Linked DNA regions of Homo sapiens. The protein of the gene in region 4 purifies or fractionates together with the protein of the main gene of each other region. This does not show direct contact. Each region holds a gene or a part of one and is shown on either strand. Other genes may lie near its edges. The genes, in order: PDIA6, PPM1G, IRS4 and MTNR1B.

Evidence for each region.
Region 1: the proteins of MTNR1B (region 4) and PDIA6 purify together in Homo sapiens (tandem affinity purification; 2 studies listed by IntAct). This does not show direct contact.
Region 2: the proteins of MTNR1B (region 4) and PPM1G purify together in Homo sapiens (tandem affinity purification; 2 studies listed by IntAct). This does not show direct contact.
Region 3: the proteins of MTNR1B (region 4) and IRS4 purify together in Homo sapiens (tandem affinity purification; 2 studies listed by IntAct). This does not show direct contact.

What each region holds. Positions count from the first base shown.
Region 1 is NC_000002.12:10,795,783-10,802,810, forward strand, and holds part of PDIA6 (protein disulfide-isomerase A6 isoform d precursor), read right to left. Parts: intron 6,859-7,028; coding exon 6,717-6,858; intron 1,976-6,716; coding exon 1,918-1,975; intron 1,426-1,917; coding exon 1,299-1,425; intron 1-1,298. UniProt on the Homo sapiens protein: May function as a chaperone that inhibits aggregation of misfolded proteins. Negatively regulates the unfolded protein response (UPR) through binding to UPR sensors such as ERN1, which in turn inactivates ERN1 signaling.
Region 2 is NC_000002.12:27,399,588-27,406,615, reverse strand, and holds part of PPM1G (protein phosphatase 1G), read left to right. Parts: intron 1-7,028.
Region 3 is NC_000023.11:108,719,560-108,726,587, reverse strand, and holds the end of IRS4 (insulin receptor substrate 4), read left to right. Parts: exon of another isoform or gene 1-3,560; coding exon of another isoform or gene 3,561-3,586; exon of another isoform or gene 3,587-4,064; coding exon 4,065-4,069; coding exon of another isoform or gene 4,070-4,175; 3' UTR 4,176-6,642; downstream 6,643-7,028. UniProt on the Homo sapiens protein: Acts as an interface between multiple growth factor receptors possessing tyrosine kinase activity, such as insulin receptor, IGF1R and FGFR1, and a complex network of intracellular signaling molecules containing SH2 domains.
Region 4 is NC_000011.10:92,972,638-92,979,665, forward strand, and holds part of MTNR1B (melatonin receptor type 1B), read left to right. Parts: intron 1-4,521; exon of another isoform or gene 4,522-5,053; coding exon of another isoform or gene 5,054-5,150; intron 5,151-7,028.

The DNA.
Region 1 (7,028 bases), on a different chromosome or scaffold from region 4:
TGGACTCAGGCAAGTCACCGATGACAGACAACTCTTTTACTACGATGTTGATGCTGCCACCCAACCCATGAGCTGATACTGCTCACATAAAGCAAAACCTAAGATGACAAAGTTCAGTCACTCATATGTTCCATATAAATCTTCAACAAAAACCTTTACCAAATTAGTCATAATTTCAGCTTCAAACAAATTATGCCCAATACTTTTACTAGCACTATGGATCTGGCCCAACCCAGCAACTCTGATTATCTTAAATAGAATAATCTGTTTGTGATATCTTTTTTTTTTTTTTTTTTTGAGACGGAGTCTCGCTCTGTCGCCTAGGCTGGAGTACAATCTCGGCTCACTGCAAGCTCCGCCTTCCGGGTTCACGCCATTCTCCTGCCTCAGCCTCCAGAGTAGCTGGGACTACAGTCACCCACCACCGTGCCCGGCTAATTTTTTGTATTTTTAGTAGAGACAGGGTTTCACCGTGTTAGCCAGGATGGTCTCGATCTCCTGACCTCGTGATCCGCCCGTCTTGGCCTCCCAAAGTGCTGGGATTACAGGCATGAGCCATCATGCCCAGCCCGTTTGTGATATCTTAATTAAATAACAAGACAATTCTCTAAGAGTGTGGTGCCTGTAATCCCAGCTACTTGGGAGGCTGAAGTAGGAGGACTGCCTGAGCCTAGGAATTTGAGTCCAGGCTGGGCAACACAGCAAGACTCTGTCTCTTAAAAAAAAAAAAAAAAGAAAAGAAAAAAAGAATAGTGTGGCTGAAATAACATTTAGTCTTGGGAGGGTGAAACCTGAATTCTTTCTTTAGTTGCCTCAGTGGCTCACAGCAGACACTAACAATTTACTTATCTACAAAACAGAATTTGTGGTATCCATTTATTATTGACAGTTTAGGAGACTAAGACTCTCAAATTACAGTCTCCTTTTCCATAGTGTTATGTTAGACCCTTTTCCTACAGTAAAGGGAAGAGAGATTAGAGCAAGAAAATACATGTAGATCTTTATTAAATACAAGTGACTGTAATGAGAAAGACAACAGGGTAGCACAGAACACTATTTTCTATCATTGCCAATGTAGCATAGACCTAAGCAAGCGTTAAGTGATGAGACAAACCTGTGTGACACATATTTCATCTTCAGAATGACTCGGAGGGTATAGGAATCACTGTGTACCATTTATAGATAATTCAGGTACAATGAGGTTGAGAACCTTGCAGGTAGAGCAGGTTCTCAAGCTTGTTAAAGAACAGTAGGTTCTTGTCTACCAGGGGAATGAAGTAGCTAGGAAAAGTCCTTACCTTGGTAATCTTCTGGTCTGTTTTTGTTGGATCCAAAAATCTTAATGGTAGGAAATCCCTGAACACCATACTGACCTCCTAGGGAATGATGCTTATCTGCATCAACTGCACCAACTTTGACAACATCCTGTGGAAATGTAAAAGAAATAACAATTTTTCCTTCCGCTAAAGCAGACTCCACAAGAACTCATTATCTGCTTCACATAGACTCAGAAAAAGGTAATAAAGCACAGGGTGCAGTTTGCAATCAGTCAATAAGGGCTTTAGCCTTGAACACCAGAAGAGAATCTAAATGGAATGATGGGGGAAATCAAAGCCCATGGAGGGAACTCTGCAGCTCACAGAATTGGCAGGGCTGAGAGTAACTGTCATTTATCTGGGAAAAACAATAAACAAAAACAGGCAATGTAAACATTTAAATGTGTATTATCCCCTTGTTCTCAGTATGATTTTGACAACAGAACCAGTATTTTCAACTCTGATATGCAAACTAGCTTCCCATTGAACATTAAACCATCTGCATACTTATTACTTAAACATACACAGGTGAATATGGACATCTTAGAAACTTACTGTAAAAAAAAGTTTTGTAAGCCTTTTGCATTCCTAAGAAACTTACTTTTAATGCAGTTGCTGCTTTCTTCCATTCTGGTGTTAATCTTTGACAGTGACCACACCTTTTGGGGGAAGACAACACAAAGCAACCATTAAAGCCTTTGATTCTCAATTCAAAAAATTCAAAAATTCAATTAAAAAACCCCATCAATGGTCTATTGAATGAGATGCCTGCAAAGAGGACAAGCACAAATAAAACAGGATCAAGGCCGGGCACGGTGTCTCACGCCTGTAATCTCCAGTACTTTGGGAGGCCGAGGAGGGAGGATCACTTGAGGTCAGGAGTTTGAGACCAGCCTGGCTAACATGGTGAAACCCCGTCTCTAATAAAAATACAAAAATTAGCCAGGCGTGGTGGTGCACGCTTGTAATCCTAGCTACTGGGGAGGCTGAGGCACAAGAATCACGTGAACCCAGGAGGCAGAGGTTGCAAGAGCTGAGATCATGCCGCTACACTCCAGCCTGGGCAACAGAGTGAGATTCTGTCTCAAAAAATAAAAATAAAAATAAATAAGTAAAATAGGATCAGCAACCTGGATGAACTCACCATTTTATTACTTACAACAATCACTTTTCATATCATCCTAATAAAAAAGCTTCCAGCCAGGTGCAGTGGCTCACGCCTGACTTTGGGAGGCCAAGGCAGGCAGATCACTTGAACTCAGGAGTTAAGACCAGCCTGGCCAACATGGTGACACCCTGTCTCTACTAAAAATACAAAAATTAGCTGGGCATGGTGGCACACACCTGTAATCTTAGCTATTGGGGAGGCTGAGGGAGGGGAATCGCTTGAACTCGGGAAACGGAGGTTGCAGTGAGCTGAGATCGTGCCACTGCACTCCAGCCCGGGCAACACAGCAAGACTCTGTCCCCCACCCAAAAAAAAAAAAAAAAGCTTCCGAATTACTGCTCAATTAAATCACATTTAAACTCTATAATTTACAACTCTACACCCTCAACAAGCCCTTTAGAATCTATCTGGTCCAATGTGCTTCACTGTGTGGAGCTGAAAGCCTAGGCACGATGCAGATTCTTGGGGTCCACAAACCCAAACTTCCTAGTGGAAGAAGTGCATTTTATTAAGTTCTGCTAGTGATTCTTAAACCTACTGGGGTTTGATAGTCTCTAGTCCAACTTTTTAATTTTATATATGAAGTATCTGGCCCAGATCAACTATGCCTATATCTCAATACTTTCTGGGTCCCGCAAATTGCTTCTGGACTTAGAAACACATGCATAAACCCACGTTAGTGAGCCTAACAAGCCGAAAAGCATGACGTGACACCACAAGATGGCGATGTGAGTGAATGACTGAGGTGGGGGGAGGCAGGGAAAGCGGAAGAGAGTGGGGAGAGGAGGAGAGAAGAGAACACAAGGAAAAACAACCTTAACCTTGCAGGTACTATTATTGGGAAATACAACACAGAAAAGCGCTTTTAAAAAATTACATGTGCGTAAACCTATTAGCCCTTACCACTCATTGAGGTTGTAGGTAGCTATACTGTTTATTTTTATTGCTGTGTAACATTCACTGTATGCAGACACCATAGTTTATCCATTGGTGATTTAATGCATTTTTAAAAACAAAGTAAATTCTCTTCTAATTAGGTCTCTAAGAACCAAATGCACAAATGCTAGGTGCCAGCACCATGATGAAAACACTTATAGATGACTTCATTTAATCAGCATGAAGCTGAGGGCAGGTCCTCTTGTTATTTCATTTTACAGATGATGGAATTGATGTTGAGAAGAAATTTACCCAATATCACAGCCATCCAGTGTCAGAGCTGCCTGACAAGTTTTTGATTCCAAACACTACAATCATACAGGTAGAAGTCGTAATTATTATGTAACTGAGTATTGGGGCCTAAACTCAATCCCAGTATCTGAAGTTAGGGTCTATCGGGGGAATGTCCTGAAATGCTACTTCTACATATTTACATACAGTATGTTTTGTTGTTTAGGTGAGATACTAAAAAATTCAGAAGTCAGATTTTTACAGGGTTTTGTGCCTCTTTAATTTCAGTTTAAGAAAGGAGGACTAAATTCAGAGACTGTCAGAGTTCATCCTCTCTTCTATTTGATCTGCACATACATCATAATGCCACATACATATAAATATGGCATACAGTCTACCCAGGGGTTCTGCAACTGGGGTCCAGACTCCCAAAGGGCTGGTGGATAAAAATTTTGGGAATCCCTTTTAGGAAAAAAAAGAAAAAAAAAAAAAAAGAATAAATCTGAAGCCAAGGTGGCCTTTTAGGAAAAATTTAGGGGAGGGAGTCTATGAATTTGGATGAAAAAAAAGTCTTTATTTTCACTAATCTGTAATCGAAATTTAGAATTTCCTTACGAATGTAAACAACACTCCACAGTCAATTATTGTGACTTTATCATGAATGAAAATCACAGCTGTTTTCATGATCGCCACTATAGTTGCTGCAGGTATCTTCAAACATCATTTATGCCCATCACTATTCAGAATTATTGCAGCTGTCAAGCCTGCTGCTGGATCTTGGTACCGGTTTAGCATCTCTATTCTAAAAACCCACAACCTGAAATGTTCCAAAATCCAAAACTTTCTGAGCGACAACATGACACTCACAGGAAACAGTCACTGGAGCATTTCAGATTTTGTATTCTCAGATTACGGATGCTCTACAGCTAAGTATTATGCAAATCTTCCAAAATCTGACAAAATCCAAAATCAGAAACACTTCTGGTCCCAAGCATTTCAGATAAGAGATGTTCAACCTGTACTTACTGTTCTTGTAAAGTACTACATTAACATCAAAATTTTAATATTTCAATAATCATATTTCCATACTTTAGGTTTTTTTTTGCGATTCTATAAGCTTTATTTAAACGTGAAGGTTTGATTTTGATTTTTTTTTTTAAAGGAGATCTTTTTTTTTTTCTTTTTTTGAGACAGGCTCTCACTGTTGCCCAGGCTGGAGTGCAGTGGCACAATCACAGCTCACTGCAGCTTCTACCTCACAGGCTCAGGTGATCTTCCCACCTCAGCCTCCTGAGTAGCTGGGACCACAAGTACACGGCACCACGTCTGGGTAATTTGTTTCTTTTCTTTTTATTTTCGTAGCGATAGGGTCTTGCCACATTGCCCAAGCTGGCCTCGAACTCTGGTGCTCAAGCAATTTACCCACCGTGGTCTCCCAAATTGCTGAAATTATAATCGTGAGCCATCATGCCTGACCGTAAAAGTTTTATTATAAGAATCCAAGGCCTTCACCAAGATGCTAAAGGAATCCAAGCACAAAAGGAAGTTAAAAAGCACCTGCCTGACCCAGTGCAGTGGCTCACAGCTGTAATCCCAGCACTTTGCGAGGCCGAGACAGGCGAATTGCTTGAGCCCTGGAGTTAGAGACCAGCTTGGACAACATGGTGAAATTCCGTCTCTATAAAAAATACAAAAATTAGCAGGGCGTGGTGGTACATGCCTGTAGTACCAGTGCTGGGGAGGCTGAGGTGGGAGGATTACCTGAGCCTGAGAAATCAAGGCTGTAGTGAGCCGTGATCATGCTGCTGCACTCTAGCCTGGGAGAAAGTGAGACCCTGTCTCTCAAAAAAAGCGCTTGCTCTAATCAGACATTCAGTCACCCAAACACCACAAAGTAAAACTCTGCCAGTGTAATAATGATTAACTAGTGGATCTAGATCCTGCCTTCTCAATTATGCTGTCTTGCAGAGTTTTCTCTTGTATGGTCGCTCTCAGAAACAAGGTAAATTACCTATGCCATATATGATAAGCTTGTAAAAACCACATACAGAGACGTTTAACAATACAACAGTTTGTACAATTACTATTTATGTATTTGCTAGTATAATTGAGCTAATCCACACAGAATTAGCATTTGGACTGAACACATATATACCAGAGCCTTTAAAACAGTAAAGGCATTAGATGGACAGGACGCACAATGTGGCAACATCCACTTTGAAAATAGAGCGTTTTTACCTCCATTTGCTACACTGAGCATGAAGTAAAATGGTCCATGAGGACTGGTGGTTAGTTTCTAAAACTTAGTTTCAAAGAAAAAAGTTAAAGTGAGAAAGGAAAAAGTTTCATCAGGCATACCCTAAAATGTACCCATCAGGTTCTAATATCCCTCACTTAAGCTTACAAAGCCTTGTTCACATGTCAAAGGACTCCTTGGGATTTCAGATAACCACACAGTTCTTCACAGACACACAGCTGGCTAGGGTTTGGTTCTCCTCTCAGGATACTTGTGGCCTGCTGGTTTACAGCAGAGACAGCCTCATATACATCTTGCACAGTTTCCACTCTTCTATTTGGTGTTTTTTTGCATTAAATGCTTTAATCACACAAATAACTAGTGCAATGTTGTACTTTTGACTGTATATAATTTTGTGCTGTTAGTTTCAATGGTGATTACATTTTTACCCCACAAGGGTTCTTCCAGCATTGAATGTAAGGTAAGAAAAGAATTTTTAAATTAAACCAGATTTTCTAACTACATTTTTTCAGGAAATAATTCTCTTCAAGAAACAGAGTGAAGTTAATCACTGGCCCCTCCATTTTCTTTGCTCAAGATTCCTTCCTCATAAAAGCAGTTTTCCTTCCACACGCATCACCTCATCAAAAGACAGATCTTCCTTAACAACAGACTAGATACTTTGCATTTCCCATTTCCCTCTTCTCTACTTCTTTTAAACAAACACTAAGCTAAACTAGATGTCTTAATAAAATCAGATTTTTATACAGCGTTTTCTCCAATTTCAGAAAGTACTATAAATAATCTACAACTATTTTATAATACTTACCATGGAGCATAGAATTCTACAAGCCACAAACTATCACTCTGAATAACTTCTCGGTTGAAATTCGATGGAGTTAATTCGATCACATCATCACTAGAGGAATACAGACCATTCACTGCCAGAAAGAAGGTACAGCTCACCAGACCTGAAGATAAAAACAAAAGTGCACCATTAACAGCACTGTTCATGCTTTGACTGGAAACCCTGGGGAACCAGAGTCCTCTTTAACTGACCAGGGCCCTTCACACAGGAGGACGGCCTAGCTCTGGCCCCTCTGCCCTTCCTGCTGCAGTTGGAGCCCCTGGAATTTCACTC
Region 2 (7,028 bases), on a different chromosome or scaffold from region 4:
TTGTCAGGGACGGTTTAGTGTGTAGAGATCTTACTAGACTATTCCTTACATCCTAATCTTCCTCCTGAGAGATAACTGCTTAGGGTATTAAAATCTTGCTAATGTGCTGTTTCTGAAGTTGCCCTTGTTTGAATAAATATGCCTAATCAATAGTTAAATATGCCTAATCAAATCCTCTTGAAGAGTATTGTTTGGGATCCTATTCTGCTTCATTGATAGTGTTCCTTCTGGCTTTTTTTCTCTTCAAAGTGTAGCATAGTTTCTTTGCTATTGCAAGAAAATAACTATGAGTTCTAGCCTCTTCCCTGAATCTTATCTTTCCAGAAAATATAAAGTACTCCCATTCCTCTGAAGCTTTAGGGCTTAATCCAAAAATTAATAAAGTTTATTTACCCTATTTGCTTGGTCCTAATGCTTCATTTGAGGTAAGGTTATCATACCACTAAAGGTTGTTGACATGCTGACTGATGGATAGATTTAGCCGTAGAGAGGACTCTTGAGACAAAAATGGCAATCATCAATAGCTGGCATTTTTACTTTCTGCCTGTTTCAAGCTTCTCTTCCTGTGTGACCAGGGTGTTGTTGTTGTTTGTTTTGTTTTGTTTTGTTTTTGAGACGGAGTTTCTATCTTGTTGCCCAGGCTGGAGTACAATGGCATGATCTCGGCTCACTGCAACCTCCGCCTCCCGGGTTCAAGCGATTCTCCTGCCTCAGCCTCCTGAGTAGCTGGGATTACAGGCATGTGCCACCACGCCTGGCTAATTTTGTATTTTTAGTAGAGATGGGGGTCTCTCCATGTTGGTCAGGCTGGTCTCGAACTTCTGACCTCAGGTGATCGGCCCGCCTCTGCCTCCCAAAATGCTGTGAGCCACCATGCCCAGCAACCAGGGTGTTTTGAGAAAAGGTAATCAAAATACCACAGGCCAGTCGTGGTGGCTTAACGCCTGTAATCCCAGCAGTTTGGGAGGCCGAGGGGGGCAGATCACCTGAGGTCAGTTCGAGACCAGCCTAGTCAACATGGTGAAACCCCGTCTCTACTGAAAATACAAAAATTAGCCAGAGGCCAGAGAATTGCTTGAATAGGAAGGCCAGTGAGCCGAGATCTCACCGCTGCACTCTAGCCAGGGTGACAGACTCCGTCTCAAAAAAACAAACAAAAAAACCACCACAGTTGATGTTCTCCTCCTTCCTCCTTTCTCCATGAAAAAAGTGGATGAGGTATGTACTTTGGGATTAAGAGGTAGGCACTGGGCACGGTGGCTCATGCCTGTAATCCCAGCACTTTGGGAGGCCGAGGTGGGCGGATCACGAGATCAAGAGACCGAGATCATTCTGGCCAATATGGTGAAACCCTGTCTCTTCTAAAATACAAGAATTAGCTGGGCATGGTGGCGCACGCCTGTAGTCCCAGCTACTCCGGAGGCTGAGGCAGGAGAATCGCTTGAACCTGGGAGGCGGAGGTTGCAGTGAGCCGAGATCGCACCACTGCACTCCAGCCTGGGCGACAGGGTGAGACTCCATCTTAAAAAAAAAAAAAAAAAAATGAGGTAGGTTGTGGAGGGGTGCCTGAAAAATTATAAGGTAAGGCCCTTGAGTTTTTGTTGGCTAAATAAGAAGTCAAATCTGAAAATAGATTCAGTTGATGTAGTCTTTTTTTTTTTTTTTTTTCTCCGAGACGGAGTCTTGCACTGTTGCCCAGGCTGGAGTATAATGGCATGATCTTGGCTCACTGCAACCTCTGCCTCCTGAGTTCAAGCGATTCTCCTGCCTCAGCTTCCCGAGTAGCTGGGATTACAGGCGCCTGCCACCATGCCCGGCTAATTTTTTGTATTTTCAATAGAGACAGGGTTTCACTATGTTGGCCGGGTTGGTCTCCAACTCCTGACCTCTTAATCCGCCCGCCTCGGCCTCCCAAAGTGCTGGCATTACAGGCGTGAGCCACCATGCCTGGCCCATCAGTTGATGTAGTCTTAAGGGGACAAGAGTACATTTAATATTTGGTTGTGAGGTTCTCTGGAAGTGACAAAACTGCTTTCTATGGAGAGTTAGGAATTTTTTTTTTTTTTGAAACGGAGTCTCGCATTGTCACCCGGGCTGGAGTGTAGTGGCTTGATCTCGGCTCACTGAAACTTCCGCCTCTTGGGTTCAAGTGATTCTCCTGCCTCAGCCTTCCAAATAGCTGGGATTACAGGAGTCTGCCACCAGGCCAGCTAATTTTTTTTTGTATTTTTAGTGGAGACAGGATTTCACTATGTTGGCCAGGCTGGTCTCAAGACTCCTGACGTTGTGATCCACCTGCCTCGGCCTCCCAAAGTGCTGGGATTACAGATGTGAGCTACCGTGCCCGGCCAGGAATTTTTTGTGCTATAAATCATATTTTCCTTTTATTAAAGGCAGTGTCAATATCTATAGTATAATTTTGAGGAGGCTGGCTATTTATTGCTGTGTAGAAGCTGGCTTATTAGTGGTCAAGGGGTCATCTAGAATTGACTATAAAGATAGTATTGAGCAGAAAATTCTTAAAATACCTGCATATTTGTTTCAGTCATTAAATTAATGGAAAAAATATAAAAAGAAATATCACAAGTATGCTATGGGGTTCTACCTTAGGGCATTGAAGGTTGAAAAACATTTATTTTCTTATCTTCAGATTAGCATCTCATATCAATAGCCAATAGCTTAAAGCGCTTTTTACTTACTAAACCAGGTCAGAATTTCTCTCTCTCTCTCTTTTTTTTTTTTAGACAGAGTCTCTGTCACCCAGTCTAGAGTGCAGTGGTGTGATCTCGGCTCACTGGCCTTTCTGTTTAAGTGATTCTCCGGCCTCAGCCTCCTGAGTAGCTGGGATTACAGGCATGTGCCACGACACTTGGCTTATTTTTTGTATTTTTAGTAGAGATGGGGTTTCTCTGTGTTGGTCAGGCAGGTCTTGAACTCCTGACCTCAGGTGATCTGCCCGCCTCCGCCTCCCAAAGTGCTGGGATTACAGACGTGAGCTACTGCGCCTGGCCAGAATTTCTTTGTCTAGAATGTGGTTAGCAACTTTTATAAAAACGCATTATTTGCATTTGATTAGCATGCAGTACCCATTCACAGTTCAAAGCTAGTATAGAATTATATCACATGTATGCCCATGAGCATGGAGAAACTATTTTCTTTTTATTTTTTTAAGTTGGAGTTTTGCTCTTGTTGCCCAGGCTGGAGTGCAATGGTGCCATCTCGGCTCACTGCAGCTTCTGCCTCCTGGGTTCTAGCAATTTGCCTACCCCAGCCTCCCAAGTAGCTGGGATTACAGGCACTCGCCACCATGCCCAGCTAACTTTTTTGTATTTTTAGTAGAGAAGGGGTTTTCCCATGCTGGCGAGTCTGGTCTTGAACTTCTGGCCTCAAGTGATCTGCCCGCCTCAGCCTCCCAAAGTGCTGGAATTACAGGCATGAGCCACTGTGCCCGGCCTTTTTATTTTTTAAATTATTTATGTATTTATTTTGAGACAGGATCTCACTCTTGCCCATGCTTGAGTGGTAAGGAGTATGGGATTTCTTGTGCCGGTTCCTTCACATCCTCACTACACTTATCTGCCTTTACAGTGGCTCGATCATAGTTCACTGCATAGCCTTCTGGGCTCAAGGGGTCTTCCAGCCTCAGCCTAATATAGGCACATGCCACCATGACTGGCTAATTTTTTTTTTTTAAGTTTTTTTTTGTAGAGATAGGGCCTTGCAGTGTTGCCCAGGCTGAGGAATTTTATTTATGTTTATTTTATTTATTTATTTATTTATTTATTTATTTATTTATTTATTTATTTATTGAGATGGAGTCTTACACTGTCACCCAGGCTGGAGTGCAGTTGCGCGGTCTCAGCTACTGCAAGCTCCGCCTCCCGGGTTCATGCCATTCTCCTGCCTCAGCCTCCCGCGTAGCTGGACTACAGGCGCCCGCCACCACGCCTGGCTAATTTTTTGTGTGTGTTTTTAGTAGAGGCGGGGTTTCACCATGTTAGCCAGGATGGTCTCGATTCCTGACCTCGTGATCCACCCACATCGGCCTCCCAAAGTGCTGGGATTACAGGTGTGAGCCACCATGCCTGGTCTAGAAATTATTTTATATTTTATACCATTGCCTTATAAGTTCTCAAGCAACTGGAAAATACAATCAGAACGTATTCCTCAAGATTTCAAGGATATTTTACACAAAGTTCTATTGTCTGATTCCTTAGCAGTTGTTACTACTGTTTCCCTAACCTCTAATCTTCTATTGGGTTATTAGTCTTAGAATTGAATTTTGAGAGGTAAGGGCTTGAATTTGAACATAGAAATTTATACAGGTCTGATCAGTAGTTCTTGACATTGTATTATCTGGAAACAAATCTTTAGAACTGAGCTTAAGATGTTTAATGACATTTTGTAGACAGAGTATGATTTCAGTGTAGTTGTTTTTGTTTCTTTCTAGATCTAGTTCAGAGATGAAGTATATCAACTTTTTTTTCCTTTTTGACCCAATGCTAGCAGAAAAACAACACCTTTTAATCATATTTAGTATTTGAAAATGTGTATACAGGTTCCTTTTTATTTTATTTATTTCTTACAGGTTCCTTTTTAATCAGCTTTATTGAGATAGAGTTCATATACTGTATGGTTCATACCACATATGGTTCATATACCATACAGTATATGAACTCACTTTAAGAGTATAATTCAGTGGGTTTAAGGGTATAATTCATTCATTTTAAGGGTATAATTCAGTGGCTTTTAGTATATTTTCTTTTTTTTCTTCTTTTTTTCTTTTTTCGAGACAGGGTCTTGCTCTGTTACCCAGGCTGGAGTGCAGTGACGCAGCCTCAGCTCACTGCAACCTCCACCTCCCAGGTTCAAGCGAATTCTCTTGCCTCAGCATCCTGAGTAGCTGGAACTACAGGCTCACGCCACCACACCCAGCTAATTTTTATATTTTCAGTAGAAACAGGGTTTCACCATGTTGCCCAGGCTGGTCTCGAACTCCTGGCCTCAAGTGATCTGCCTGCCTCAGCCTCCCAAAGTGCTGGGATTACAGGCATGAGCCACCGTGCCTGCCTGTTTTGTAGTGTATTCAAACAGAGTTGTACAACTGTCACCACAATCAGTTTTAGAACCCCAAAAAGAAACCCTGTACTCTTTACCAGTCACTCCCTATCTTCCGTCCACTAACCCCTGGCATCCACTAATTTACATGACCTCTATGAATTTGCCTATTCTGAACATTTTATAAATGGAATTCTAAATACACTACCTTTTATATCTGGATGCTTTTACTAAGCATGTGTATTTTTGAAATTGACTTTAAAGCTTGTTGGCCCCTGGAAGAGTAAATTACTCTCCACCCCAAGTATTCCCTCTACCCCTCAGCTTTGCCTGTAAGTTTCTTTTTAAAAAAATCACACATACATTGTTGTAGTAGATTTAAGAATAAGTATTTTGCTGACCCAAGGTTCTTTTGCTTCTTTCTAGATCAGTGCCTTGCAGGTTTTATTTTACAGAGCTTAATAGAATCAGAAATCTCTTTAAAACTCCAGTCTCATATCCAGTTATCACTCACCATCTCTGTGTTTGCAGCAATAGCCAGGCCTGGCCCAGAGGGACTTGATCTCCACTTTTGGTTTTTAGACTTTTCTGTGGCTTTTACCACCTGCTGTGTATCCTTGACCTCATACTGCTGGACTCCTTTGGATGGATACCAGCAGGATGGTTCAGGCTCCAGTGGGCACTTTTTAAAATTCTCTCCTTCTGTTCAGATAGACAGAGCTCAGGCAGATCACCAAGTCTGTTGCCTGTGTAACCAGGAAAGAGATGCTAGTTTTCTTTTAGGCACTCCCATTTGTTTCTGTTGGAACCTTCCTCACTTAGTTGATGGAAGGGAAGCAAAAGACCCAGAACTCCATCTCAAATTAATGACTTAACAATTCTTGAATTTTCTCTTATCTCCTAGTTAACTCTTTTTCTTATCTCCAGGAGGTCAGTTTTAATTATTGTTGTTTATTCATTTATTTTCATGGAGACAGGGTCTTACTGTGTTGTCCAGGCTGGCCTTGAACCCCTGGCCTCAAGGAATCTTTTCACCTCAGCCTCCCAAAGTGCTGGAATTACAGGCATGAGTCACCACACCCAGCCTGATATTTTTCAGTTGATGTATCATAGTTGTGCCTAAGCATAATTTTTTAATTTTAATTTTTTATTTTTGGGGACAGGGTCTCCCTCTGTCGCCCAGGCTGGAGTGCAGTGATGCGATCTCAGCTCACTGCAACCTCCACCTTCTGGGTTAAAGCGATTCTCCTGCCTCAGCCTCCCGAGTAGCTGGGACTACAGGTACCCACCATCACACCCGGCTAAATTTTTTGTGTGTATTTTAGTAGAGACGAGATTTCGCTGTGTTGCCCAGGGCGGTCTCGAACTCCTGAGCTCAGGCAATCCGCCTGCCTCGGCCTCCCAAAGTGCTGGGATTACAGGCATGAACCACCACGCCCGGCCAAGCGTAATATTTTTAAGGGTCATCAATGTTGTGTCATGAATCAATCAGTGTTTCGTTCTTTTTTATGGTTGAATAATATTCCATGGTATGGATTTGTCACATTTTGTTTATCCATTCATTAGTTGATAGACATTTTGGATTTCCACTTTTTTTTTTTTTTTTTGCTATTATAAATAGTGATACTATGTACAAATTTTTGTGTGGAAATATGTCCTCATATCTCTTGGTTATATACCAAAGAGTGGAAGTGCTGGGTCATATGGTAACTACGTGTTTAACATTTTGAGAAACTGCTAAACTGTTTTCCAAAGTTGCTGTACCGTCGTACATTCCTGCCAGCAATATATGAGGATGCCAGTTCCTTCACATGTTCACTACACTTATCCACCTTTTTTATAATAACTAATGGTGGGTGTGAGATGGTATCTCATTGTAGTTTTGATTTGTATTTCTCTGATGGCTAAATGGCTAATGATGTTTGAACTTTTTGTTTGAGACAGAATCTCACTCTGTCCAGATTCAAGCG
Region 3 (7,028 bases), on a different chromosome or scaffold from region 4:
TTGAAAGTCTGACCAGCAAATGTGATTTTTTACTCTTGCTTTTTAAAGTTTTATGCCTCCAGTCTTGAAAGCTTACCAACCTTGTCCTCGCACTCAGAGTCCTGTGCCCCCACCCACCTCCATGATGAAGTCCTTATTGTTGCTGCAGCTTTTACCATAGTTTCCCTTCGGCTGTCACCCTGCCTCCGACTCTTCCAACTGGTTGAGTATGGGGGACACAATTCCTATTGCCATGGCTGGAAGACATATATTCCTGGAGTCTCAAACTGAAACTTCACATACATCTTCCCTCAGAAATGATGACTGGGTATAGTCAAAATAGTTCTCTGTTAGTTCAGGAGTTGCATAGGTTAAATATAGGCATATCTAGACAAAGCTATAAACCTATCCACCATTAATTTATGACATTGTTTCTACAAGATAATTTATTCTGAGTTTCAACTAAACAATGACCTTGGAATATGTCTGTTTTGTAAATTTGAAACTGCCTATATTAGAATTCTAGTAACTTGCATTCTTTAAGTTGGCAGTAACTAGGCAGCAGAGTGAAGTGGCCCATGTGTGTGTTGGGAAGTAGTGGAGAAGCTGACCTACCATGAAAATCCTGTAGCTGATCTCCATAGAGTTTGTATCCAGATACTCAAGACTGGAATGCACATGCATAAGTGGCCCAGGGCCTGCTAACAAAGGGCAGGTGTAAAACGATTGAGCTGACCTTTGAGGAGATGGGGGTTTACAAGTGTCATACATTTCCCTTACAGATTCTTTTGAGCATTCTGTCCCAAAACTATTGCCATTGTGGGAACAAAGGTATTTTATCATCCGATCTATGAAGGAGATAATAGTCTGGTATAATTGGTGTTGTAAAGACTAGCAGCGATTATTACTAGTTTTTAGCCTTGAGCAATAGCACTTAATTTTATCAAGTCCTAGAGAGTCATCCTCCTCTACAATCACAGGGCACAGAAAAGTATGATGATCCTTTCTTATTGAGAAAAAACAAAAAAACCTACATATACTCCAGAGACAATGCTAAGCTAACTAATATAATTGCATTATTATACATTCATCTTTGGCATGTATGCTTCAACATATCTTTCTTTGCTTCCCTTTTTTTTTTTTTTTTTGGTGCTTTACTTGGTTGCCCCTGCTTATGTGAGCTCCAGTTGATCACAGGGGTGCAGGGATAGCATGTTGTCAAATGAACAGAGTGAGGAATTTGCAAAAACCCTTGAAAAACATTTTTGAGCTCCAGGAAAATTGGAGCTGAAAAGATAACTAAGACAATAAGTTTGCAGAAAGGGAAAAGAGAATGAGAGAATAACAATATATTGTTATAGGTTCACCTTTCTCTGAGCAGAGGAAATACTGCTGTTTCGGACTTCAAAATGTAATAGAGGCATATTTATGATTCATATAAAGAGGTCTGAAATACCCTGGAGGAACTGCCTACTTGGCTCACCCTACAAATTTCCAGGGATATTGAAGTCATCTGTGCATTATTAGCGTATTAAAGATTAATGTTCAGGTTTATATCATTATATAACTCGAAACAGAAAAGTTTACTTCATTTGTTTTTGAGAAAAAAAAGTTCCCTGCCAGATTTTGGTAGGAGGAGTAGGGAAATATTTTGACTCATCAGAGTCCACTGAGGTTTTCTATATTACAGAGAAAAATTACCTGAAGAGTATACCACCCATTAAAAAGGGTGAAATTAACTTGTTGTTTAAAAGACCTTTGATTAATTGGGAAAATAAGAATATACAATAAGGTAAGTATTTATAACCTGTCAGTATCAAATGGGAATAATACATCCAAAACAGACCACATTATTACAAGCATCACCATTTACCTTGCTGATGGTGAAATCACATAAAAATGAACGGGAGACAAATCTAAGGTATGACTTTTAGCCCTTTAATATTCATTTTGCAGACTGTTCACAACCAAGTTTTAATCTCGAATTGCTTTCCTTTGCCACCCAGCAAGCTTCTGAGTTGCTTCCTTACGCTGTTCTTTGGAATGTGCCCCGGGAATGTAAACTCATTTTAATATTGGCCTAAGTAAAATAGGATTATAAAGGCAAATCTGTGGCTCAAGTTCCCATAATGCATTTCAAAAGCAAGTTAAATTATTTTGGGATTATCCTGTTTGGGATAACATTATTCCTTTCTACTAGCATAGTTAATCAAGAATTGACAAATGTATTTTGTGAAGTAAACATGAAATTACACAATTATTTGTCACTTTTTATTAAGTTACCAAACATTCACTTAATGCTGGTGTAGGTGTTATAGGAAAGCAATGGCAATATGAATCAAATTTTAGTAGAGGCTCTGTCATTTAAAAAAAGGAAAGAGAAAGAAAAACAACTCCAATAAAAGCAAATGTTCCTAATCTTAGTATAATGCCAATAGGGTAGTTATATGGAGCTTAATTTGCAGGTTTCTGGGAAAATATATATGAAATCCAGTGTATCATATAAGACAGCAAGAAGTCCCTTTTAAAGCACATGCAATGTGCTATATATGGACATATGAAAATATTTTTGGTATTAAAACAAAATAGTAAACTAAACTAGGTGAAATACCTTCCTAACCTTAAATATCTATTTTAAAATGTAGCTGATATCTGATAACACTGTAATACTGGTACTGGTCTAGCCTAATTTTGCAGCGAATTAACAGTTACTAATATGCAGTCTCACAGTTAACTGTGGTTATCACAGACTCCTTTCTTCCTGTGTAGAACTAGATACATAAAATGTAAAATTTCCTAAACCCACTGCTGACAGGAAAGCTTAATACCTTTACTAATCTATGGCATTTTTTTGAGACAGGGTCTCACTCTGTCACCCAGGCTAGAGTGTAGTTGCGCGACAGGGTTTCACCATGTTGCCCAGGCTGTTCTTGAAATCCTGGCCTCAAGGGATCCACCTGCCTTGGCCTCCCAAAGTGCTGGGATTATAGGCATGAGCCACCATGGCTAGCATTTTTTTAAACTTCTAATCTACAAGAACAAACCTATACATTGAATCTTAATGAAGAGACACAACTAGTAAGAGGGAAATGTACTGTTCCCACTCAGTGCTTCATCCAGCTGCAAATTTGTTACATTTTAAAAATCCTTGAGCCCAGGAGTCTGGGTGGGGCTGCAGTGAGCCATAATGATGCCACTGCTCTTCACCCTGGGCAGCATAGTGAGACCTCATCTCTTTAAAAAAATTGTAAAACCTTTGATGAGAAAATGAATACTTAAAATGTATATTTCCAGTTTAATAGACAATCTTGTACTTGAAGCCCACTCTGGGGGATGTTTTCCATGGATTCTTTTAAGATGTCTCAAATAAAATAGAATACTTGGTACTTTGTGGTGACCTGATCTTAAGGTAACACTGGCATCCCATAATCAATTTGCTGATCATTTATTCCTATCCCTTCTCTGGTCCAGCACCTTCTTCTATGTATCTGATCACCCCCTGCCACACTCCCCATTATGCACCCACTCAAAAGCAGAAAGCCAAGAGAATAATGCTGGAACTTTTTTCTTTTATTAAACAGATGGGAATTTCAAGTCTCCTTTGCAGGTATGACTTTGTTCTATTAGAAGAAATTCAATGATTGAGTCTAGAGACCATCACCAATGCTGTACTTAAATCCTATGACTTGTGCCACATAACCTGGTGAAGGCAGAGTCAAACATGTAGAAGAAGAAGAAAAAAATCTGTTTCTCTGCACAATGCCTGGCTCACTCTTGGGCTCCACTGGAAGAAAGTAGAACAGTGCACGCACGTGCAAAGATGCTGTCCACCAGAAATGTCAGTGACAGCCTGGGGGCAAGAAGAATAACTGCCCTTGTGTCTTTGCCCAGCTGATATTCCTCACAGGCAGCCAGCAGAGTTGATTAACCATGTCCATGCCCAGGCAGTCTCCTCTGTATATCTCTCAAAAACTTCTAGTTAGATTTTGTTTTGTTTTGTGTTGTTTTGTTTTAAAACAGGGTGGGGGTGACAGCTCTCCACATTAATTCTGCAAGTAACTTTTGTTTTATTATCTTTTTCCTAGAGTGATTATATTGCCACAAAAACACATTTTAGAAGAAAAGTGATGCTTATGGAATTTTATCTTCGTCTACTCCAGATCTGCCTAAAGGAAAGAAAACTCAGAGGCTTCTGAGTAGAAAGCAACCCAAATTTCTACAAGCCTACAAGTGGACTCTGGCAATTGAATGATCCTATTCATGCAGATCATTCATACTGCTGCTTATGGATCCAGTGATTTCTAATTAACAATATTTACACTGTGCTTTGTTTTTTGTTTTCTGGTTTTCCTCCCCAGTCTGTCCCTTTGAAAGGAAACAGATACTATACAAGTGAGCATCTCATAACTCTTTCCCTCTTTAAAAAAAAGTAACTTAGAATACATATAAATTTGGTCAATGCCAATTTTAATAATGTAAAATATTTAGATTCAATTTTGAAGTTGAAAAACTTTAAACCAGGGCACATAAAGAAAAAACAGCTGTCATAATTGGAAGGAAGGTATGATCTGGAATCTTTTTTCCGAGTATTACACACACAAAACATTTCTTGATCAATGAATTAAATGTCAACTGAACTGATATCTTGATGGGGCATTACCAGTATTTTAAAGGCAGGACTAAAGGGCAGATTATTTCAAGTTTTGCTCATTAGCAAAACTGCAACATTCTGCTCATGTTATATGTCAATGAAACTAATATCTTGATTGAGCATTTCCAACATTTTAAAGGCAGAACTGAGAAACAGCTATTTGTTCACATACAACACTGTGATGTTCTGCCTGAAAATCGATTGAGTATTTCCAAACCTATTATTTTTCATTTATTGTGAAACCTACATTTACCTCCTAAAAGAAACAAAGCTCTTCAAAAGTCTCTTCCCAAGGCCCCTCCCTGCTTCTCTGGGCCTCTCCCCACTTTCAACCTCTATTCTACTTTTTCTTATTCTTTCTCCATTTTCCCCAATGCACACTCTTCCTCTTATGCCCATGGCTACTATAAAGAGATCAATTTCCCATATTCAAGAAATTAGTGTTTACTTATCAATCAATATTCTGACAAAAACTTAAGCCAAAAAGAACCTCTTATAAGGCCTTGTTTCCTTCTGGATATTGAGCCAATATAAGATGTACCAAATTAAAAAAAAAAATCAGAGCAAGCTCCCCCCCGTTCTATTTTTGCTTGCCTCTGATGTAAACTGAATTAAGATTTTAGGTACCTGGACCTTTGAGAACGTGACACTAGCAAGGTGGTGACCACAGAGAATAGGTACAAAGGTCTTGAAGCTTGCTTAGAGCTTTGTTCCGTGGTGGCACACAAATCTTGGCTTGCTGTACCATCATTGGCAAACCTCATCATATCACAGTTGGGTGTGTTTGTATGTGTGTGAGCACTAGTGTGTGTGTGTACATATTCGTGTGTATGCACACTTTGTGTACCTGTGTACATGTGATTGTAGATGTACCTGTTGTGTGTAAACTCTGTTAAAATGAAATTTGCTTCGCATTTAATGTGCAACTTTGAAGTAGTGTAATATTTATCTAAAGGTTTTCACTACTTGGTTTTAATGTCTTTGAACGTGTACTTCTATCTTCAAGCAAGCTTATAGTACGTGTTGCTAAACTAACTTTTCCAAAGAACCGAGTTGACTTCTATTTTTCCTTGCCTACCAACCAAAGGGATGGTGGGCTCTTTTTTCCCTCTTGTAAATTGTGCTGAGGAGAGGACGTGGCTATGAGATCAGTCATTGTTCCAGTTACTGGTCACTGCTAGGGCATCAACTTTATCAGTTCCTTCAGACTCTTCTCTTTTTCCAACCTAATCAAATAACGCAGTGTGGCTTTTGTTCATTATAACAACGCGCTCTTTAGGCAACTTTTTTTCAAGCCTTCTGTCACCATTTTATTTTTTCAAGTAAGTTAAGTAATAATTGTTCAGAATTGTGGGAAAAAAGATTACTTGGGGGAAAATACTGTATCACTTTATTTGCATATTAGGTTCAGAAGCTGCCAGCAGACAGGGTACAGAGGGTACAGCACAGATGTAACAGTTGCTGAATAAATGAATGAGAAACCTCATACACAGTAGTACGTATTATACAAATAGTAACAGGTACACATAGTCACAGGTACTGCATAACAAATGCAATCTTGTTCTCATTATTTATTAGTTTACAGACAATTAATTTATTCAGTATTGTGCTGGAAGAATCTTTGTGGAATATGTTTACCAACTTATCACTTACCTTCCAGCTATCAGTTCATGCTGCTAAGAAAAAACAATGATGGAATATTTTTGTGTGTGTGACCTCTACATTTAATTTGATATCAGGCATAGTCACTTGGTCGTTAAAAACTGAAACTTTACAGTTCCACCAGCTAATTACATCTGCTATTTCTGCTTCACAGATATGCTTTGAGTTGCTTTGGCTTTGTCTTCCTTTGTAAATACTCTTGTACTTTCTTTTCCTTGTAAACATCTCGTTTGCAGTTTTGGGAGACGACTTTGCAACTCTGTATAGTGTTTATATATATATGTATATCTATATATATCTGACTTGCCTTTCCATACAGCTACTCACAATAAATGTGTTCATGTAAATTATTCCTGTAGAGATTCATTTTTTAATACTATTGTCTCTACTTTATTATAAATATATTTTCCTGCTTTGTAGTAGGATTGACTGCATTTTTCAGAATGAAACAAATGGGGTATTTTAGGGTTTGGGCTAAAGGTACTTTGCCTAGAAACATGAGGCTTTTCAATAGAGTCAATAAAGTCAACTCTTGATTTTTCAAATGTAGAGGTGATACTAGTGTAGAACAATTTATAAAATGACTTACCTAAAATTTCATGCAGACCTTGGATAATGAGTGAATCCTATATTGAAGCAACTACTCAAGGAGGTTGAGGTGATCATTTACTTTTTTTTTTTCTGTCTCCTTCCCTTGACACTTAATCTTGCTCTTTAAATTACTCTTTTTTTTTTT
Region 4 (7,028 bases):
ACAGCCCATGGCACTGGGTTGGCACCTCACGCCTGTCAGATTGTGCTTCCCAGGGACTTGCCACACTTTTGACTCTACTGAGAGCCGTTGAGAACTTTCCCTCCTGGGCTCACCACTGCTGCCCTGACCCTTGAGCTACACCTCGCTAATATTTATCTCTTGCATTTTTGAGCTCTTCCTTTCTCTCTTCTGGAAACTTCCTCCATGTTACACACACACACGATACACAAAGTCTCCTGTTTTAAAAGAACAAAAGACTCTTTTCTTGACTTCATGTCCTCCTAACTTCATCACTACCTCTCTCCCTCCCTTTTCAGCCAGACATTTTAATGTAGTTGTGGACATCTACTGGTTCTACCCCATTGCTTCCCGTCCTTCCTCAGTCCTCTGGGCGCCATTCTCTGGAAATGTTCCTCTGTGCTGTGTGTGACACTGAGGGCCACTCCCTCTGTGGGACCTTTCATTCCCTCGGCTAACCTGGTGCTAGTTTTTGGATCTCCTTTTTCTCTTCATCTCCCGGATACCTGTGCCCTGAAAGTCATCTTTGGTTCCTCCTACTCTTTCATTCCACATGTCCTAATGATTTTACCTTCCACTATTTCTCAATTTCTCCCTTTCCTGCCTCCTTATTCTTACTGCCCCACTTCATGCCTTCATCATCTCTTGAGCAAACACTATCCATAGTGCTTGAGAGCTTTTCCTGCTCCCTCCCCCAGCCACTGTTACCACTGCCAAGAGTTTCCCTGTCTTCAGTGGCTGCCCTCCATCTCCAGAACAGTGTCCAACTCCAGAGCACAGCTCCCACGGCCATTTGCGGCTGGCCTAGCCCACCTAACTTACAGCCTCATTGCCCTCCTCTCACCAGTGTCACAGTGAGCTGCTGCTACTTCCCAAAGGGTCTGCACTCCCTGATGTACTTTCTCTACCTCTTCTGCCCAGTCAACAGCTGCTCCTCCTTCAACTCCTTCCCCAACTCCCCTGAAGGATTATCAATGTTGATTATTAATACCATGAAGGGGATAGTAAGTGTCTCCCTTGTTGGGCTTCTAAGATACCTGTGCCCTCCCCAGTACAGCATCCCCCTCACTGTACTATTGTTCTTTGTCTCTCCCCGCTGGACCGTGTACCTGCTGAGAGCAGACACTTTCATTCAGTTTCTGTCCACAGAGCCAGACACATAGTAAGAACAGAACACATCTCTGATTAAATTGGAAATGGATAAGACACCAGGTAGTGGGGGAAAATTAATTGATTTTGCTCCATGAGCTGGGATAGACCTCAGTTACAGTACTCAGCACTGCATAAGTAATCAATACAGGTTTTCATGAAACTGAACTGCTTTGAGAACAGCCCAAAGTATATCTCATGTTAAGCTGACTATTGGCACCTTCTGCATGAAGGCATGCTTGTTCTGTGATTCTCCTGTGTGAGTAAAGTTGCTCAGCAGTTTCCAGCCATGCCATGGTTGTACCCTACTGATTCCTCTTGGGGAGTTTGCCCCTGATATGCTTTGGCTGTGTCCCTACCCATGTCTCATCTTGAATTCCCACATGTTGTGGGAGGGACCTGGTGGGAGGTAATTGAATCATGAGAGCAAGTCTTTCCCATGCTGTTCTCACAATAGTGAATAAGTCTCATGAGATCTGATGGAAAAAGAGAAACTCCCCTGCACAAGCTCTCTCTCTTTGCCTGCTGCCAGCCACATAAGACATGACTTGCTCTTCCTTGCCTTCCACCATGATTGGGAGGCTTCCCCAGCCATGTAGAACTGTAAGCCCAATGAAACCTTTCTTTTGTAAGTTGTACAGCCTTGGGTATGTCTTTTGTTGTTGTTGTTTTTTGTGAGACAGAGTTTCACTCTTGTTGCCCAGGCTGGAGTGCAATGGCATGATCTCGGCTTACTGCAACCTCTCCTGCCTCAGCCTCCTGAGTAGCTGGGATTACAGGCATGAGCCACCACACCTGGCTAATTTTTTTTTTTTCTGAGACAGAGTCTTGCTGTCGCCCAGGCTGGAGTGCAGTAGCGCAATCTCGGCTCACTGCAAGCTCCGCCCCCTGGGGTTCATGCCATTCTCTTGCCTCAGCCTCCCGAGTAGCTGGGACTACAGGCGACCGCCACCTCGCCCGGCTAATTTTTTGTATTTTTAGTAGAGACAGGGTTTCACCGTGTTAGCCAGGATGGTCTCGATCTCCTGACCTCGTGATCCGCCCGCCTTGGCCTCCCAAAGTGCTGGGATTACAGGCGTGAGCCACCGCGCCCGGCCTAATTTTGTATTTTTTAGTAGAGATGGTGTTTCTCCATGTTGGTCAGGCTGGTCTCAAACTCCTGACCTCAGGTGATCCACCCACCTCAGCCTCCCAAAGTGCTGGGATGACAGGTGTGAGCCACTGTGCCCGGCCTTGGGTATGTCTTTATCAGCAGCGTGAAAACAGACTAATACAGCCCCTTTCTTGGTCTGGCCCGAGGTGGCCACTTTTAAGCTGCCTGTAATATGCTGGCCATATAAGAGAGCTGAGAGAACCATGTCCTCACTGTAACACCCAAGTACTCTCCACTATCAGAGAGGAAGTCATAACAACACCAGTTATTCCTGGCTCCATAGGCACAGCCACCTTAATTTTCCAAGTAGCAGTCAGAAGCTGTGGTCTGACAATGGATTTTTGTGCTGCAAATGGGTTAAAGAGGCTGTCTGGGAGGTTTAGTGAGTGCACGAATTGGCATTTCTGGGGTACGTTGATGATTGGTAAAGCAGAAATATATGAACTATTTGATGTTAAGATTGCCTAGGAAAACATGGAGGATTTGCTTGCTGAACACACAGATCTTTGTCCAAGGTCACTCTGTCTATGCTGGCAAAGCTGCCCCTCCTCCAGGCCCCCAGTGATGCTAAGAATTCACACCATCTCCTATCCAGAACCAGTAACTGCCTGGGAGGTTCCTGATGGGAATATTCTGCCTATGCAGGTGCTTTGCTTCCCCGGTTAGATTAGAAAACAGTCTGCACTGTGGCCCCTGTTCCTTGCCTCCTCTCTTCCAACTTGTTGACTGAGACAGCAAATGATGCTTAATAAGCAGCATGGTTCTGAACAAAGGCTCTGGAAGGCCTAGAGTGAAATGCTTAATAGGCCCACAGCCCCTACCCTCCAAGTTATAGAATGAAGTGGAGCCCACTCCATCAAGGCTTCTATCCTACCACCGACCACTCATTGAGATGTCACTTGGCATCAGGTGTCTTTTGACTTGCTCAGCCTGCAATGTTTAGAGTGCCATTATCAGCCCAAGACCAAACTGGGTAACCTTGGACTCCTTCCTGAATGTTTCTTAAGCTGTCCAACTTTGCATTTCAGCTGTGAATACCTTATTGCCTCTTCACTGAGCAAAAATGAACAGTTTTTAAATCCCATAATTATGTCTTTAGCTGAATAATCAGGAAAGCTAATAATCCTCTTTAATTCCTCCCATGTAACTTTCAGTAGCTCAAGGGTATAAAGACTTTAATGTTTGCCTGTCTTTATCTCCAGAAAGCTGGATTCTGCATTCGGATATGATATACCACAAAATTCAGAGAATACTGAAAGCTCCTACTGGCTCTTTCAATTTAAAATACTTACTGCTGGAGGAGTAGAGATAGAGAATTGGGAAGTAAAGCCCCAGTTCTTAGGGAGTTTGCCATCTAGAAGGAATGTCCTACTTTCTTCATCTTCATGTCCTTACTACTTCTCACATCTTATCTCACAGGGATCCCAGTCCAACCTTATGAGCCTCTTTCTTGATCTGTCAGTACAGCTAATAATATAAAACAGTAATAACAAATAATAGCTAATATTACTAGTGCTTGTTATATGCCAGATTCAAGTCTCTTTCCTTTAAGAGAGAAAGAAAAGGCAAAAAAAGCCCTCCACTGTCCCCTATCAAAGGGATATTCCTTCCTAAGCGCCACTCTCTATCTCCTTCTTTTGAAGGCAACACTGATAGAGCAATCTCCAGGGCAAAACTGGATCCCCAAGCTCTCAACAGAATTTGTTCTTGTTAATGTCACTACTGCCTTCCTAACTACCAAGTCCAATGAGCACTTTTCTGTCCTTTCTCACTTTTGTAGATGACCAAGAAACTCTCTACACCCTTTCTCTTAATTCCCTTGATATTTCTTTTCTTTGGTTTTCTCCTCTTCTTGTTCTTTCTCAATCCTTCTGTGTTATGGCTATGAGCAATTCACACAAACTGGGTGTCTGTTTCTTTATCTATAAAACAGAAATCATGCTGTCAACCTTAAGGAATTCTTGTGAAAAACAATGGAGTCCATTTATGTAAAACTATACTATCAACTTCACCATGTTATATCAATGGTTGTTTTGTTGCTATTAAGTGTAAAGTAATAAAATGTTACCTATCAGAATTTCAAAATGATCTCTTTTGATGGTTATTGAAGAATATTTTGTAAAGCATCTTAGTTATGTTTTTAAATGGATGCTTATGTTCTTAAATATATTTTCTTCTTTTAAGTGGTTGAAATACCCCCATATATATCTGTGTACACTATTGATTAGCCAGTTTTTGTTTTCTAATTAAATCAAAGTTAGATTTCAACTCAGCTCTTGTATGATTCATCCACACATCCTAAGATTTTCATAAATATGTGACTTTGGAAGAAAAAAATATCTGCTCTCAAGAGATTTGGGAATCTAATTACAAGCTTACAATAAATGCATTGTTTTAGTGTTTGTTTGAAAATCAAGTTGTGAATAAATTATATGGTCAATTATTTCAAATGCCCATCCCCAGAACATAATAAGAATATCTCACATTAATTTGGTGATTATTGTTATTTCTCATGACCTTTCCCATACAACATCTTATTTGAGGTAAACAGCCATTCTGGGAGTTAGGAGTTCTGTTGCAAAAGTCTTGGTAATTTTGTGTAGCTCCTTGGTGAATTGTCGTGCCTGACCAACCCCATATCCTGCCATTGTCCCCAGTCCCAAGTTGACTCACAAATTCCCCACTGTTCCCACCACCTTGTTCTGGCCTTTCTTCCAGCTCTCACCTAATTGAATGGCTACTGTTTTCTTTTGTTTCCCTAACAGTTCCATGGGCATCTCAATGGCAGGGGCCATGTCTTTCATCCATCACTGCGTCTTACTTGAATGTGGTAGGCACTCAATAAATATATTACACATTTAAACAGATGGAAGAGTGGAAGAAGACCTCAAGGCACAGAAAGTTTAACACTGTTAGAAAACATAGATCATTTGTTGACTTCCCCAACATATCCCTCTTGGCACCTTGTTTTTATTTGTTTAATGGTCTTCCCTAAGAGACCATAAACTTTATAAGGGGAGGTAGCCTGTCCATCTGGCATAGTCAAAGGCAGAACCTAGTATATACTCAGCAATATTTGTCACATAAATGACTTGATGATTCTCTCTTTCTATCTTGTCTTTTAGCTCAATGACCAAGGAGAATTTATGTCTAACCAAATTTTTCTTCTGAGCATGGAGGGTGAGCACAGAGGAGGGGGGCAAGGGTTACAGGGAGCTTTACCTTCCAGAATTCTCCTATCTGACGAATATTAGATAGCTCAGCACTGGCTGGCTCTTTCCTAGATTACCAGATCTCCATTAAGAAATACATTTTCCAGAAAGAAAGAGAGAGGAAGAGAAGAGGGAGGAGACTGTGATGGTTGTGTGTGTGAAAGGATGCGCTCTGCGTATGAATCCTGAAGGGGATTCCATGTTAGTAAACAAAGCCCTCTTGTCAAAGCCTCTCTCCACTAATACACCCTATCTGCTGGAGGCAGATGGAAACGAGTCACGCCAGGACCCATGACATAAATATTCATTATGCACACGGTGACTGCAGTGCTGTGTGCATACTGAGTGATTTCTCACCTGTCTGGGGAAGAAATGGATGGAGAACTGGATCTCCCCTTGACTATCATCCACATAGGACCTGGCTTCTTACAGATGGAAGACAAAACACAAATTTTATTCATCTAATTTGGAATTGTGCCAAGAAAGCCTGGAGACAGTGGGATGTCTGGGCAGATGAATCTATAGCAGGAAGTGGTTGATTTCAGCCTTTTAGGAACAGCCAGAGTAATAGGGGATAGTAATTGAATCACTTTCCACATGGAGTTGAATGTGTTCTTCTTACTATTTACAAGCTGTTTGCCAGCCTCTGGGGCATTATTAGGGGATAAGCCACATTAACACAGCAGAACTTGACTCTGCCTTCACAGGGAAACAGCTGGCAGAGCTGGCACCGGCTCCCAGCAGCTCTTGACTTTCTCTGCTCAGCTTGCAAGTGCCAAGAGCTTGTGTGTTGCTGGGCCAGGTGCCCAGCGGGTCCTATGGAGACTCATCTTCCTGTGCTGGAGAGAAGTGATTCTCTTCACAGAACCAACCCTATGAGTGTGCAGGGGGAAGTGATGGCAGAGCTCTGAAAGAAAAGAAAGGAGCTCATGTAGGAATAGTCACCAAGAAAGGAACTCGGGAACTCGCCCAAATTCATTCAACCATAAAGTGGCAGGACTCAGATTATCCCAGATTTCTCTGACTTCAGCACAACCCTCCAGATTTCAAAAGGACACATAAAATTCTCAGGAGACAAGGGTTCCTGATTCAGCTGAAGACAAGCAATGTGAGAGAGGGAATCCCTCATGTTCTTGGAACCAAGTGAGGTCTGTGTAGATGAGTCAGAGATGGAGATCCAGCAGTGGAGACAGCCAGCGGGCTGAGAATTAAATTAAAAGGCACAAAACCCCTCCACATCCCAAGCAGGTCCTTGTTGCACATTTTTTGCCTTGCTGTACCAACCAGAAAGGAAATGAGGTCATTTTTAACCCATGAAGTAAATAAATCTGTGAATAGTAGAGTAGGTAGGAATCCAGCAGTTCAGTTGAGTCATGATTCTCCTTTGCCATCCAACTTGCTGGACAATCTTGAGACAGGGAAACTCACTACCTCACAAGCGCTCTAATTGTCCAGACAATCTCCTTTCTATTCAGTTACATCCTGTCTCCCTGGTT